Linked DNA regions of Homo sapiens: all the other regions are reported to be linked to region 1. The links are microRNA targets in miRTarBase. Many come from high-throughput screens and were not tested one by one. Region 1 holds a microRNA gene; each other region holds the end of a gene's coding sequence.

The links. Region 1 holds the annotated microRNA hsa-miR-3938 (AAUUCCCUUGUAGAUAACCCGG, at 1,670-1,691, shown strand). A microRNA usually pairs through its seed, bases 2 to 8, with sites in the 3' UTR of a target mRNA and lowers its output. Matches are read on the target gene's strand: a 7mer-m8 pairs with bases 2 to 8, a 7mer-A1 pairs with bases 2 to 7 and ends in A, and an 8mer does both.
Region 2: miRTarBase lists ZBTB22 as a target of hsa-miR-3938. Seed matches in the 3' UTR shown: 8mer at 226-233.
Region 3: the mRNA of TOMM22 is a reported target of hsa-miR-3938. Seed matches in the 3' UTR shown: 8mer at 1,733-1,740 and 7mer-A1 at 1,708-1,714.
Region 4: the mRNA of ZNF793 is a reported target of hsa-miR-3938. Seed matches in the 3' UTR shown: 7mer-m8 at 2,608-2,614 and 7mer-m8 at 2,292-2,298.
Region 5: miRTarBase lists CEP78 as a target of hsa-miR-3938. Seed matches in the 3' UTR shown: 7mer-m8 at 461-467 and 7mer-m8 at 2,433-2,439.

What each region holds. Positions count from the first base shown.
Region 1 is chr3:55,851,055-55,854,205 of GRCh38, reverse strand. MIR3938 (microRNA 3938) reads left to right here and starts at 1,612; the gene lies at 1,612-1,714. All of the region lies in intron 14 of ERC2 (ELKS/RAB6-interacting/CAST family member 2), which reads left to right.
Region 2 is chr6:33,312,201-33,315,200 of GRCh38, reverse strand. It overlaps ZBTB22 (zinc finger and BTB domain containing 22), which reads left to right. Exons shown (of 2, transcript NM_005453.5): 2 at 1-783. The coding sequence ends at 189. TAPBP (TAP binding protein) reads left to right here and starts at 1,123. Exons shown (of 8, transcript NM_003190.5): 1 at 1,123-1,196; 2 at 1,337-1,507; 3 at 1,724-1,984. The coding sequence starts at 1,160. RefSeq lists an enhancer at 1-569.
Region 3 is chr22:38,683,495-38,686,494 of GRCh38, reverse strand. It overlaps TOMM22 (translocase of outer mitochondrial membrane 22), which reads right to left. Exons shown (of 4, transcript NM_020243.5): 4 at 1,074-2,728. The coding sequence ends at 2,654. It overlaps JOSD1 (Josephin domain containing 1), which reads left to right. Exons shown (of 5, transcript NM_001360236.2): 5 at 1-952. Among named protein-coding and RNA genes, the nearest start is that of TOMM22, 3.0 kb to the right of the region's middle.
Region 4 is chr19:37,537,520-37,540,519 of GRCh38, reverse strand. ZNF793 (zinc finger protein 793) reads right to left here. Exons shown (of 8, transcript NM_001013659.3): 8 at 1-3,000. The coding sequence ends at 2,641. All of the region lies in intron 1 of LOC124904708, which reads left to right. Among named protein-coding and RNA genes, the nearest start is that of ZNF571-AS1, 9.9 kb to the left of the region's middle.
Region 5 is chr9:78,270,631-78,273,630 of GRCh38, forward strand. CEP78 (centrosomal protein 78) reads left to right here. Exons shown (of 17, transcript NM_001330691.3): 17 at 211-3,000. The coding sequence ends at 221. Among named protein-coding and RNA genes, the nearest start is that of PSAT1, 25 kb to the right of the region's middle.

The DNA of each region.
Region 1 (3,151 bases):
CCTCCCGGATTCAAGCGATTCTCGTGCCTCAGCTTCCCAAGTAGCTGGGACTACAGGCGCCTGCCACCATGCCCAGCTAATTTTTGTATTTTTAGTAGCGACGGGTTTTTACCATATTGGCCAGACTGGTTTCAAACTCCTTACCTCAGGTGATCGGCCCTCCTCGGTCTCCCAAAGTGCTGGGATTACAGGTGTGAGCCGCCGCGCTGGGCCTGCTTCGTGCTTTGTGGAATTAGGCCTTGTGATAATTTGGTCTAATTTAGGCCTTGTGGTCAAAGCATGTAACATAAAATTTATCATTTTCACTGTTTTCAAGTGTCCAGCTTAGTAGTGTTAAGTACATTCACATTGTTGTGCAGCCATCACCACCACCCACTTCTGTAATTCTTTTCATGTTCCCAAACTGAAACTCTGCACTCATTCTATAATAACTGCACGTTCCTCCTCTCCCTGGCCCCTGGCAGCCGACATTATACTTTGTCTGTGAATTTGACTCCTCTAAGTATTTCAAGTAAGTGGAATCATACAATATTTGACCTTTTGTGACCAGCTTATTTCACTTAGCATAATGTCTTCAAAAGTGATGATGTTTGAAATAAGCAGATTAGAGTATATCTAATTCAATTCATACTTATATTTCCTGAGTGCTAGTGCTTTCTTTTTTTTTCTTTGTTTATTTGAGACAGGGTCTCACTCTGTCTCCCAGGCTGGAGTGCAGTGGCACAATCATGACACTCATGGCAGCCTCAACCTCCTGGGCTCAAGTCATCCTCCCCTCTCAGCCTCCCAAGTAGCTGGGATTGTAGATGCTACCACTATGCCTGGTTAATTTTTAATGTTTTGTAGAGACAGGGTCTCACTATATTACCCAGGTGGGTCTTGAAGTCCTGAGCTCAAGTGTTCTTCCCACCTCAGCCTCTCAAAGTGTTGGGATTACAGGCATGAGCCACCACACCCAGCCTCCTGAGTGCTTTCTATGTGTATCTTTTAATTTTCAGTTGGTTGATTCATCAAGCTTCCATGTCCCATGAATCACATGGTTGGACGGTCGAGGGTGGGTGGATATGCTGTCACCTTAGATCAGGAGTTCTCAACCAGGGGCGATTGTGCTCCACAACCCACCCCAACCCTGACCCAGGAATATTTGACAACTGGAGACATTTTTCGTTGTTAAAACTGGACAGTGGGATGGGGAGGAACCAGAAGGTATGCTACTGGCATGTATAGGGCAGAGGCCAGCGATGCTACTAAACATTCTGTAGTGCACAGGACAGCCTCCTGCAACAGAGTATTAGCCCATCCAAATGTCAAGGTGCCAAATTCAAAAACTCCTATAAAGGGCTAATGACTATGCCAATAATTTAGGGGGGAATATCTGGAGAAAAATGCAGTATGTATTTTTATTGAGTAATTTTGAAACAAATTTCTATGCTGCCATCAATTTATTACTAATTTAGTGAAATGTCTTAAATGTTGAGAGTTCAGTTATGAGTAAATGCAGACTGAGTTCCTCCTCTCATGGAGTAACTTCAGGTATAAAAATGGAAGGAGTCAAAAGAAAAGAATCCATGTACCTTTACCCTCATTAATTCTGCTGCAAGATTTTTTTAAAGGAATTTTTAACCCGATCACTAGATTATCTACAAGGGAATTTTTTTTTAATTTAAAAAATTCCCTTGTAGATAACCCGGTGGTCAGGTTGGATGGCTCCATGGAGGTCATGAGGTGTAGAGCTGTAACTAGGAGAACTTGCTGTTGTGCCTCTTCTGTTACTAAGTGGCTATGTGACATTTGGTAGTTCTGATTATCCCTCTGGGCCATATTTATCTTACCTATAAAATAAGGGATTTGTATTACATATAAAAATCTATGTCTTTGGCATTAGTGAAATACAACAAATAATTCTAAGCTAGTAGTTTATTCTTGTGGTGTAATTACTGTAAAGCACATTTTACTACATCAGTTTTTTTGTTTTGTTTTGTTTTCGAGACAGAGACTCACCCTGTCACCCAGGCTGGAGTGTAGTGGTGCGATCTCAGTTCACTGCCACCTCCGCCTCCCGGGTACAAGCAATTCTCCTGCCTCAGCCTCCTGAGTAGCTGGGATTAGAAGAATGCGCCACCACGCCAGCTAATTTTGTATTTTTAGTAGAGATGAGGTTTCACCATGTTGGTCAGGCTGGTCTCAAACTCCTGACCTCAAGTGATCCACCCGCCTGGCCTCCCAAAGTGCTGGGGTAACAGGCGTGAGCCGCTGTACCCGGCCTGTTTTAGCAATAAATTAATATGTTAAGCCTAAAACAAACTGCCAGTAAGGACACCATGTTCTGTGCAAAGGGCCCAAGACCCTGGGCTCTCTCTGTTGTCATATCTTCTCCTTATTAGGCTGAGCTCCCATGGCCAACAATGGTGTGACACCCATGTGATCCAAAGGATTCTTTTTTTTTTTTTCTCATGCAGTTTTGTTGTGGTCAACTCTAATGAGAGTAGATGGGATTTTTGGATTTTTTAAAAGTTAGGTGGGCAGGAAAAGCAAAAAATATGTATTTATAATAAAAACTATTTTTTAAAACTCTAGATGAGAGAGGTGAGGAACAAGTATCTAAAACCAAAGCTCTGGAGTCCAGTTATTAACATGCCTCACATAATGATAATGGGAACCAAACTAAATAAAGCCCTGGTGATCTTCAAGTTTGTGGGTTGGGCACGCAAGCCAGAAAAAATTTTGTTATTTCCTTGGAATGCGTTGTGTGTCATTCTCCAGTGCATTCCCTCTAGTTGTGTGTGTGTGTACATGTTTAAATAAAGACAATGACAAAATAATTGATTGTAAAGAGTTGTAGCAAACACCATTATCTGAAGTGTAGTTTAAGTGGAGAGAGGCTGGACCATAGAGAATGCTGAGAATAAAGCCTGGACTCTGGGGAGGCCACGTAGGAGCCTGCTCCAGGCCAGTACCCACTGTTGTCCTGTTACCATGTGCATTCTCATCCTGCCACCAACTCCCAGCATGGGCTTAAAAAAATCATTATCTAGTATTTTTTCTTAGAGATGGAAGTAAGTTTTCTTCCCAAGGTCAGAGCTTTTCCAAGAATGTGCCAGCAGTCTCTGCAGTCTCTGAATTTCAAACAACATCTGATGGGGTCTGGATT
Region 2 (3,000 bases), not on the chromosome of region 1:
GGGGCCGTACCTGGGCCTGGGACTCCCACGGGGCCATCCTTGCCGTCCAAGAGAGAGTCTCCCGGAGTGGGCGGGGGCAGCGGCGACGAAGCGAGTGCGGCCACGCCCCCGTCCAGCAGACGTGTCTGGTCCCCACCCAGAGTCCACAAGGTGGAGATGGGCTTCGGTGGAGGTGGAGGAGCAAACTGAAGGGGCAGGCTACTGGGGTGGGGTAGCTTTCGGGAAAGGGAATAAGGAGCACGATGCAAGGGCGCTGTGGCCCCCGGGTGATCTCCCACCACACTTACTGTCTTCCTTTATCTCTGTGGACTTGTATATATTCTGGAAGGGGAACCACAGTTTCACCATCGCCCGCCCATTCTACTACTCAACCCCTCCCCCCCAAGGTATTTCCAGAACTAAACCCTTCCTTTCCCTCTGATGGGTACACTGAAGCCCCTGCTCCACAGAGTAGATTGCACATGGAGGGAGGGAGAGGGGGCGTGTTGAACATCCTGCAGTCACAGGGTCAGGGGTCAGGTGGTTGTAGTCTGTGCCTGAAGTCTGTGTTTGTGTTGTCGTGGAGACAAGGCCTTTGAGCCCCACCCTTGTCCTAGAACCTACCCCCTCTCAAGGATGCGCTCTTTATTTCTACCCTGTCTCTCCCCGCCACCCCCGACTTCCCGTGGAAATTCCCAACTCGGTTCTCATGGAGGAGTGGGTGGAGACAAGGAGGGAGTAAGTCGTAGGAGTACAAGGTTTTTATTTTTTTTAACAGTGATTAAAATATTTATTGGTCATTTACTTGGCTTCCCGATAACCCGTGTGTTTGCTGGGGACGCGGCACAGATAGGGGGAAGCCGGAGTAATGGTTTTCGGGCAAGTGGATGTTGGAGAGCACACACAGGAGTTGGGGGGCGGGGGAGGGCCTGGGGTTGGGGAGGGCTCGAACTCGGGGCTGCTGGGTAGTCCAGGAGGGCGCGGTAAGGCTGGGGTGTCCTGGTGAGAACTGGAGAGGATCTACCCGGGTCCCTGCCTGGCCAGTGGGGAAACACCGGTCCCCCAGGCACCTTCACCTAACCAGAGCGGGGATTTCCACCGCCCCTCATGCCGCCCTTTGGAGGAAAGTGAAAGTGAAAGGAGGAAGAGGAGGCTTCATGGCTGAGGAGGTCGCAGCGCCATGAAGTCCCTGTCTCTGCTCCTCGCTGTGGCTTTGGGTGAGCGAACCCCGCGACTCATCGCCCAAGAACTAGAGGGAAGCGGAGGGAGGTGGCCCCACTGGAGCCGATGCCAGGGTGGGAGTGGGGCAGGTCACCAGACATACAAACCGCTCCTCACTCGCGTCCCTATACGCCAGGCCTGGCGACCGCCGTCTCAGCAGGACCCGCGGTGATCGAGTGTTGGTTCGTGGAGGATGCGAGCGGAAAGGGCCTGGCCAAGAGACCCGGTGCACTGCTGTTGCGCCAGGGACCGGGGGAACCGCCGCCCCGGCCGGACCTCGACCCTGAGCTCTATCTCAGTGTACACGGTGAGTCTCTAGGGACTCGCCGCCCCCCTACCTCTGTCGCCTCCACCGAAACCCCCTCCTCTTTAGATCCGGCAGTGACCTCAGGCCTCAGCTTCCCCTTTGTAAAGTGAGTCTCACTACGGGGTAGTCTGTGCATTTGAAGTTCCCCGAACGCTGCCCTTCCAGCCCCTTTCCCGGCGGTGACTCTACAGCTGCAACTTCCTTCTCTACACTCAGACCCCGCGGGCGCCCTCCAGGCTGCCTTCAGGCGGTATCCCCGGGGCGCCCCCGCACCACACTGCGAGATGAGCCGCTTCGTGCCTCTCCCCGCCTCTGCGAAATGGGCCAGCGGCCTGACCCCCGCGCAGAACTGCCCGCGGGCCCTGGATGGGGCTTGGCTGATGGTCAGCATATCCAGCCCAGTCCTCAGCCTCTCCAGCCTCTTGCGACCACAGCCAGAGCCTCAGCAGGAGCCTGTTCTCATCACCATGGCAACAGGTAGCTGGGGAGGGGAGGTGGAGAAGGGTGGGTAGATTCTAAGGGTCCAGATCAGCCGGTGGTCTCGCTTTATGGACTTGAGCAAGACATTTCGCCAATCGGGGTTCAGTTTCCTTTTTTTGTTAAGAGAGGTGGTTTGGCTAGAATGAATCAATCTCTACCGCTCCTTCTAGCCCTCACCCAGTTAAAAAAAAAAAACAAAAAAAAAACTGCAGCTTGGCAGGGGGTAGGGGGAAAGCAGGGCCGGGCAGGGGGGTTACTTTCTGGTGTTTCGAAGGGCGGGGCTTTGAAGAGGTGGGGTTTCCCGACACCAGACCTTGAGAGACTTGTCAGGTGATGCGAGGTGGGAGGGGTTCAGAAGCAGGAGCGTTTTTTCTCTGCTCTTCCCAGATCTGTGTCTTGCTCTGCACCCTCAGCTTTGCGGGTCACTCTTTCAAAACCCAGCACTCTATCCCCACCTGCGCCCACACCCGGCGCTGCGGCAATCCGCAAAGCAAAGGCTCTTGCACTCTAGCGCGTTGACCTTGCCTGACAGCCCCGTGTAGGGATGTGCTGCCGCTCTGTGGTCCGCAAACAGGTGGGCTCGAGTGGGCGGATGGACGCGGCTGGAGATTGGATAGCTCCTATTGCACTGAAAGGTGCATTGCAGTTTGAGGCCCAGGAGTCAGAAGCTTTTCTAGGCTGGGACGTGGGAGGGACTGTGCAGATAATTCAAGAATGAGGAGAGTCTGACCTGGATATCTGGGAGCTCTCCCTCCTGGCAGCGGAGGCGGGGTATTCCGGGGTAGAATACCGGTAGAGTTCTTAGCTTTTCTATCTGGATTTTATGTCAGCGACACAGCCCGATGGACAGGGCAACCCCAACCAATCCCTGCACCCTCCCTTCCCTCCACCCTCCTGAGAATTACCCACAGAACCAGGGAGACAGACTTGAAACCCACGCTGAAACCCTCACCTCTGCCTATACCTCCATTCTTAGTCTCAAGCCCCCACCCTGGCAGAAGCTGAGGAACACT
Region 3 (3,000 bases), not on the chromosome of region 1:
ATGCGTGTCTCCAAAGTGGATGTGGTTGCCTCAAGGCAGGTGGCAGGCAGGGGTGACCTGCTGGCCCTCAGATCAATGGTCGTGGCAGGTCTGAGAGCTGTCCCACTGGCCAGACTTCTCTCCAGCAGCAAAGCCAGCCTGGGGCTTGCATGTTGATCCTGAGCAAGCTTAACGGGGTGAAGCTGGGCTTTCTCCCCCCTGTGACTGGAGTGCATGTTGACACCAGCACTTTTTCTGCACATGTATCTTCAATCCAACAAGGCCGTTTTTTTAATGCTGAGTAACAGGCCACCAAGCGGCTACTGCGTTATATCTTCTCAGCAACTGGCCGCAGTCTCTTCTGCACCATTTTCTACACCAGACCTGCTTGGCACCACAGGGAGCTCTTTTCCTGCCCTGCACAATGACATTCCAACCACCACCAGCCAGACATTACAGCCAACCTTGCTGATTGTCACAAGCAGGACCTTGGGGCCACTGGCACTGTCAGATAGTAAGCCATTTCTTGGGTAGAGGAGGAAACTCCTCTCCACAAATCCACTTGGGCCTGTGCAAATGGCACTTGAAAGAGTCCCCATGCACTTGGAGTCCATGAGCCAATGGGATATGCAAAGACGCTTAAACATTTCAGGGCTGGTTTCTCTGTTCATATCCAATTCTGGTGCTTAGGAACAGGGACCCATGCTGATGCCCAAGGGCAAAAAGCCCCACTTCCTTTAAGGAAGTGAACAGGCCTGACCCTGATGCCCAATAACGGGCAACCCTAGGCTTTTTGTTTTTCTTGCTTTTATTCCTTTTTGTTGTTGGCCTTGTGCTGCGTTTGTTTACAAAAGATGTATTTTGTTTAACCAAATATTAAAAATGGAAAACTCCATATATGTCTCCTTGTCTGCCTGAATTCTATAATTGTGTAAAGAAAAATAAACTTTAGTATGACGCTGTTTTAAAAGGAGTTCATTGCCAGCGTAAGTCATCTTTTAGAGACATATCATTCTTTGATTAACTCTTTCACCTGAGAAATCCAGACAAAATAGTCACTGAAATGGGATTTGGTTCAAAAGATGTCTCTAAGACATTTTTCAGTCTATTTTAATTTATAAAAACTAATCTTGACAATTTGAAGAATCCACCTAAGTACAAGTTTGTACCACACTGGTGACTAGTGTTTTTCCCTAGTTAACAAGTGAAAGATCATGTATACCCAGCGGGCCTGGGCCCAGCCCCACCATCCCGAGCGCACAGCAGCAGTGTTCTGTAGCTGGACTGCCTGGATTTGAATCCAGGTCTAGCACTTAACTCTGCAGCCTTGAGCAATTACCTTTCTGTGGCTGTTTCCTCTTCTGTAAAATGGGAACAGTACCACCTAGATTGTAGTGTTGGTTGATCTGATAAACACACAAAAGGCTTACTCTGGCTGGGCGTGGTGGGTGACGCCTATAATCCCAGCACTTTGAGGGGCCAGAGGCGGGTGGATGGCTAGAACTCAGGAGTTCAAGACTATCTGGGGCAACAAGGCGAAACCCTGACTCTACCAAAAATAAAAGAAACTAGCTGGGCACGGTGGCGTGTACCTGTAGTCTTAGCTACCCAGGAGGCCAAGTTGGAGGGGAGGTAAGAGGTTGCAGTGAACCCAAACGACACCACTGTACTCCAGTGAGACCTGATCTCAGGCAAAAAAAAAAAAAAAAAAATTCTGTCCCCCTCCCCTATTCCCCAGAAATCAGTACTATGTTATTCCCTACAAATACTTTATAATTACACAGTGTCATTATAGACTAAAGAAGTACATAGACCCAATCCTTTGTTTTAGGCTGATGGATCTCAAAGTGACTGCCTAAATTCAGGGCAAAGATTGCTATGAAGTACTTGGCTAAAAATGAATTTTCACTTGGAAACAATTTGGGCCTATGGCTGTTAAGATGGAGGTGCTGCTGGTTTAGGTGAGAAAATGTGAGGGGCAGTACATGTCTCTGACGTGGTCTCATTTCAAGGTACTTAGGATGACACTTTCAGTTGGAATCATTTTTAATATTTAAATACAAAAAGTGAGCACTGACTTCTCTTTTTTTAAACACACACACAGGTCTAACAGCCAAAATGTGCAGAGGAAATGAGCTCCTGCTGTCTTCCATAGTCCCCATTCTGTGGCTGAAGCTGCAGCCTGCCTCCCTCCTCTCATACATAGGGATTCATAGTGGCCACTTTACACTACAGGTGTAATGCATTTTGTCTGTTTCACATTGTGTGCATGTCCTGCCCCAACAACTCCATTCTTTAAAAAAAAAAAAAAAAAACAGTCGTTAATGGTCAGGGGCACATCCCTCCCACTGGCATCGGTTCCTACCCCACAAGGGGAAAGTGAGATCTTCCAGTTAGGAGCAATTTGGTGAAAGGAGTCGGGTGACCAGAGCTGGAATAACCATCTGCATGGCTGCACTCTGGTATCAGAGTGGAGACAGAAGTAAGGATAGTGTGGAGGGCACAGTTGCAAGTTGAGTCTTTCCATGAGACAATGTGGGGATAATTCTCCCCACCAGGTTTAGATAGATCAATGTGCCAAAGTTAAAAAAAAAAAAAAATCCAAATTATCAGCAGTTCAAACACTTGAATTTCAAACTTATCCCACTGAGACAGCTCAAACAGCAATAACAATCTAGATCTTTCCAGGAAGTGAGGGTAGAGCCCCTGGCATTCCTCCTGAGAGCCCTGTGTTAGGTCCTAGAAGTATCTGGAAAAGAAAAGGAGGGGTGTAAGGCATCATACAGGCCTAGAGAGCTTATTCTCACCATACCTGATGGGGCCAACGTCTACAAAAATAATACTGAAAGCACAGTCAGACAACTAAAAGAGCATGGGCCCGATCCCAATCCCCACCCACACATTAACTGTTGGTCAACTCAGGTGCTACAACAGGAGCCCTCAACCCCTGGGCTGTGGACTGGCACTGGCCCATGGCCTGTTAGGAGCTGAGCCACACAGCAGTAGATCAGCAGCAGGCAA
Region 4 (3,000 bases), not on the chromosome of region 1:
GTAAATTAACACATTCTATGAAATGCCTTCTCAGTATCTGTTGAGAGTTCATATGATTCTTCTCCTTTAAACTGTTAATTTGATTGATGCATTTCCTATTAACTGAACTGGTTTGGCATTCTTGGGATGACTCTTACTATGTCACTCTTTGGGTATATGGCTGAATTCTATTTGCTAGTATTTTAACTATAATTTTTGTTTCTATATTCATGAGTAAGACTGGTCTGAAGTTTTCTTTTTTTTTTTTTTTTTTTGACGGAGTTTCGCTCTTGTCACCCAGGCTGGATGGCACGATCTTGGCTCACCGCAACCTCTACCTCCTGGGTACAAGCAATTCTCCTGCCTCATGCCTCAACCTCCCAAGTAGCTGGGACTACAGGTGTGTGCCACCACACCCGGCTAATTTTTGTATTTTTAGTAGAGATGGGGTTTCACCATCTCGAACTTCTGACCTCATGATCCACCTGCCTCGGCCTCCCAAAGTGTTGGGATTACAGGCGTGAGCCACCGCACCCAGCAGAAGTTTTCTTTTTTCAACTATCTGTATTTGATTTTGGTGTTAAAATTTATTCTGACTTAATAAAATAAATGAGTACAGTTCATGGATTGTATTACATCCATATAATAAATAACACTGGTATTACTCTTTCTTTAAAAGATAGAACTAAGCATGAACTCTTCTGAGCCTGGAGCATTTTCCCATTATAGATCTTTAATAGCTTTTTTGAGTTTTTCAATGTTAACTATCCTACCAAGTTTTCTACTTCTTATTGCAGTTTTCATAACTTAAGTTTATTAGAAAAGCATCCACCTCCTCTTTTTAAAAAATATGTTGATTAGAGTTGTATGAGGTATCTTTTTATCACTTAAAAAATCATATTGATATCTGTGGTTATGTCTCCTTTCTCATTCTGGATCAGGCAGTCTTACATGGAGGGAAATCTTGAAAAATGTAGATTCCACATGGCCATTTATTTTCTAATATGGATGACATAGCAACTCAGGGAAGCAGACTTCTTTCCAAACATTGAAATAATTAAAACCTTGGGATTTAGTGTCTAGGACACTTGCAAGGAAATTTATATGAAAAAAATGAATATTCTTGAATTAATTTGCAGAGGGATAGAGAGAAAAGAAATTCTCCTTCAGTGGTCTACGCATGAAACATTTCTGAGTTATACAACCTGTATATAGAATAGTGTATCTAGAATAGTGTAGCAATGCTACTAATTTGCTACAAGATATTTTAAGCAAGACTAAGAAAATATGAACAGTGTACTGTACACCAGGGTGACACTACATTTTGTCAAATAGTTTACAGTGTTTCATTTACCCAGTATCAGGTTCTTAAACTATTCCTTAGCTTGCATTTTTAATATAAATAACTACATTTTAGTAAAATTTTTGGCCAAATTATCCAAATACATTTAAAAACACTGCTTTATTATTTCTGCAGAGGACAGTAACAACCTCTATAGCCATTTACATGTATTACAAAAAGGTGGAAAAATGTAGCTGGTATAATAAAGTTCTTTTAACAATAGTGGGCCATGTTGTTGTTATTTTTTTGTATTGTTAAGACATCAAAAGACAATGATGATATTTAAAGTGGAAAAGTTTTCTGAATGGCATTCTATATGTTGTGTGACATGTGTCTGATATTCACATTTTATGTTAATTTCACATTTACAACTCCAAAATACAAATAATGCTGATTGTATGGCTCACTGTGGAATATACCAGAGTATGCCTTTAAGTCTCTTCACAGATATTTTGTATTCTGCTGTTATTCCATTTAATACATTTTTAAACGTTTACATGCCAGGGTGTCCATGCTTATGTTTGAGAAAGTATTTTCTAGAAAAGTTTGTATCACAATTAGATCATGATTTCCATTATGATACAACACTGTCGGTTGGGCGCGTTGGCTCATGCCTGTAATCCCAACACTTTGGGAGGCCAAGGGCGGGGGGTTGGGGGGTATCACGAGGTCAGGAGTTCGAGACCAGCCTAGCCAAAGAGACCAGCCTGACCAACATGGTGAAACCCCATCTCTACTAAAAATACAAAAATTAGCCAGGCGTGGTGGCAGGTGCCTGTAATCCCAGCTACTTGGGAGGCTGAGGCAGGAGAACTGCTTGAACCTGGGAGGCTGAGGTTACAGTGAGCCGAGATAGTGCCATTGCACTCCAGCCTGGGAAACAGAGAATACAACTCAAAATAAATAAATAAATAAAATAAAAACACACTGTTCAAATTCATTAAAATGATAAGATTTCTCCTAAGGATAAATTCCCTACATACCGGCCAGGCGCGGTGGCTCACGCCTGTAATCCCAGCACTTTGGGAGGACAAGGCGGGCAGATCACAAGGTCAGGAGATCGAGACCATCCTGGCTAACACGGTGAAACCCCGTCTCTACTAAAAATACAAAAAAAAAATTAGCCGGGCATGGTGGTGGGCACCTGTAGTCCCAGCTACTCGGGAGGCTGAGGCAGGAGAATGGCGTGAACCCGGGAGGCAGAGCTTGCAGTAAGCCGAGATCGCGCCACTGCACTCCAGCCTGGGTGACAAAGTGAGATTCCAACTCAAAAAAAAAAAAAAAAAATTCCCTACATACCATGAAACCAGATATTTTGCTCAAGTATTTCCCACAATTATTAAGTTTTCATTCCTGTAGGCATTCTTCCGAGCATGAATTTTCTGATGTCTGCTGAGGTTTGGCTTCTGGTAGAAAGCTTTCCCACATTCATTGCACCCATAGGGCTTCTCTCCTGTGTGAGTTCTCCAATGTTTATTGAGGCATGACTTCTGGCTGAAGGATTTTCCACATTCTCTGCAACGATACGGTCTTTCTCCTGTGTGCATTTTTCGATGTACATTGAGGTATGACTTCTCACCAAACGATTTCCCGCATTCACTGCAGACAAAGGGTCTCTCTCCTGTGTGTGTTCTCTGATGTTCTGTGCGGTGTGACTTCTGGGTAAAGGCTTTCCCACA
Region 5 (3,000 bases), not on the chromosome of region 1:
CTCTTGCTTGCCCATCCAGTTCTATATCCAATAATGAGTTCGTCCAATTTCAAATGGGTATTTACAGAATCTCTAATCTCAAGACAGTAACACTTGATTTTCAGAGGATCGGCATGATAGGAGATGATTGGTTTTTTGAAAAATTCTGATTATAAACTACATGCTGGAACATTAACATGGATGACTGAACACATTCTTTTATGCTTCTAGAATCCCATTGAAATGACTGGAGAAATATTAAAATAAAAATAATAGCAGAGTTGGAAAACCAGAAATTTGAACAGTGAAATTTCTGGAAGATAAGAAGCAGATGATTTAAGTACCAGTTAATTAAAGGATGGAACAGCTAAGCCATTCCACTCATCTTTGGAGCATCTGATTCTGGAGTTTGCCACCAGGCTAAGAAAGCAGCTATCTGAAGTGGGAGCTCTGACCCAAGAAATGCTGGGATCGGAGAATAAGGGAATTATCCAAAATGGCTCCGAAGAGGAACTGAAGTTAAGCTGCCCACATGATCTCTCTAACTATGATGACCTGCCACTTCCGTTTATAATCACCATATAAGTGCCTGTAATCATTTGTGTTCATTAAAAGTGAACCAGAATTCCCATTTGGATGAAAAAATAACACTTCCAACTTTAATCTTAGGCCCTCATTTATAAATATGGACAACCAAGAATCATCAAATTTGAAGAAAACCAGTAACATAAAAGGAGGCATGAAATTAAAATTAACCTGTTCAAGAAGATAGTTACTAGGAGAAACATGAAATTTTTAAATTAATGAATCAAAATCTTCAGCAATTCATAAAGATACTGTGTTCATAAAGAATAGGATGCCATGAAAAAAATATTTAGAGTTTCTGGAAATTAAAAATTTGATTATGAAACTGAAACACTCAGAAGATGGACTACACAGCAGAATGGATTCATTTGAAGCTTAAATTCATGAAATGGAAGGTATTAATTGGTCTTAGACGTTTCATCAGCAACTTAATTACTTAGAAAAAATCTTTCTCAGAGTAACTAAGCAAAATGAACAATGAACCCATTAACGTGTGGTTTTGTTTTTTGGGTTTTTTTTTTTTGAGTCAAGGTCTCACTCATGTCACCCAGGCTGGGGTGTAGTGATGGGATCACAGCTTATTGTAACCATGAACCATTGGGCTTAAATTATCTTCCCACCTCAGCCTCCCAAGTAGCTGCAATGTACCACCATGCCGAAGTTTTAAAAAATTATTGTAGAGTTGGGTTCTTTCTTTCTTTTCTTTTTTTCTTTTTTTCTTTTTTTTTTGAGACGGAGTCTCGCTCTATTGCCCAGGCTGGAGTGCAGTGGTACAATCTCAGCTCACTGCAACCTCCTCGATCTCAGCTCACTGCAACCGTGAAGTGATCTTCCTGCCTCAGCCCCCCTAGTAACTGGGATTACAGGCACACACCACCATGCCTGGCTAATTTTTGTATTTTTAGTAAAGACGGGGTTTCACCATGTTGGCCAGGCTGGTCTCGAACTCCTAACCTCAGGTGATTCACCCACCTCGGCCTCCCAAAGTGCTGGGATTACAGGCATGAGCCACTGCATCCGGCCAAGATGGGTTCTTTCTTAGGCTGGTCTTGAACTCCTGGCCTCAAATGATCCTCCCACCTTGGCCTCCCAAAGTGCTGAGACTACAGACCTGAGCCACTGTGCCCAGCCCCATGAAAGATGTTTAGATCAAATAAACTGATAAAGATATTGATAAAGATATGAGACAAACTACTTCAGCTTTGTGACCTGCAAATCCCCTTTTATAATCACCAGAGGTGCCTGTAGTCAGAAAAAGTCTAAATAAATACTAATGACATATGAAAACAAAGTCCAACCAAAGTTCTAGGTTTGAACATGAATGGAGGCATGGCAGGACACAGAAAGTGAAAGCTTGTCCTAGATATTGTCTTATTCATGGGAAGGATACAGGTAGTGTTTGATTCTAGGTATTGATTGAAAAAATATATTAAAATATATATAAAGTTAAGGGTATGTTAGTAAGGATAGGTTAGGTGATGTTGCATTAACAGCTCCCAAATTTTAATTACTTTCAACAACATAGGTTTATTTGTGCCCATGCAGTTTGCCTTTGGCAGATTGGCTAGAGGCCCCTATTCAACATCAACCTCAATCTGGAAGCGAGGCTGGTGGAACGTCACTATTTGGAACATTGCTGGTTGCAGTGTCCAAGGAAAGACAGTATGATGCAGCATATATTGTGACTTAAAGCTTCTGTCTAGATGTGACATATGTCACTTCTGTTCACATTTCTTTGGCCAAAGAAAGTCACATGGTTATGCCTGAGTTCAGCAGACCAGGGAAGTGCAGAATTGCCATTTGCCATGAGAAGAGAGGGAAGCAAATGTATGTCAACAACTTTAATAGCTACAAAACTACCTGGAAAGAGGGAATGGAATTTTTAGGTCCAACAAGACGGGAAAGAAAAAGAAACAAGCTACATAGAAATAAAAAATCCACAATATAGCAAGATCAAGTTTTTTACTCATAATAAACATGAACAGGTTAAATTCTGGAATCCTTAGGCTTGAGTAAAAACATGAAATCCCACTGTGTGCTATTTGCAAAATCTAAAACGCTGTCATAGATTATAAAGAGATGAACAAAAATATACCAGGCAGATGCTAAAGAGTAAATGTGGCTGTGTTAGCTGCAGACTAAATAGAACCCAAGGTGAAAATTGGTAAAGGGGACAAAAGCTTCTTTTGGCTGATAAGTACAGTGTTGCAGAAGATTTTTTAAAAAAATATATCTGCAATTTAAAAACTTGATGTTAGGCCGGGCGCAGCGGCTCACGCCTGTAATCCTAGCACTTTGGGAGGCCGAGGTGGGTGGATCACCTGAGGTCAGAAGTTCAAGACCAGCCTGGCCAACATGGCAAAACTCCGTCTCTACTAAAAATACAAAAAAAAAAAAAAAAAATTAGCTGGGTGTCATGGCGCATGCCTGTAATCC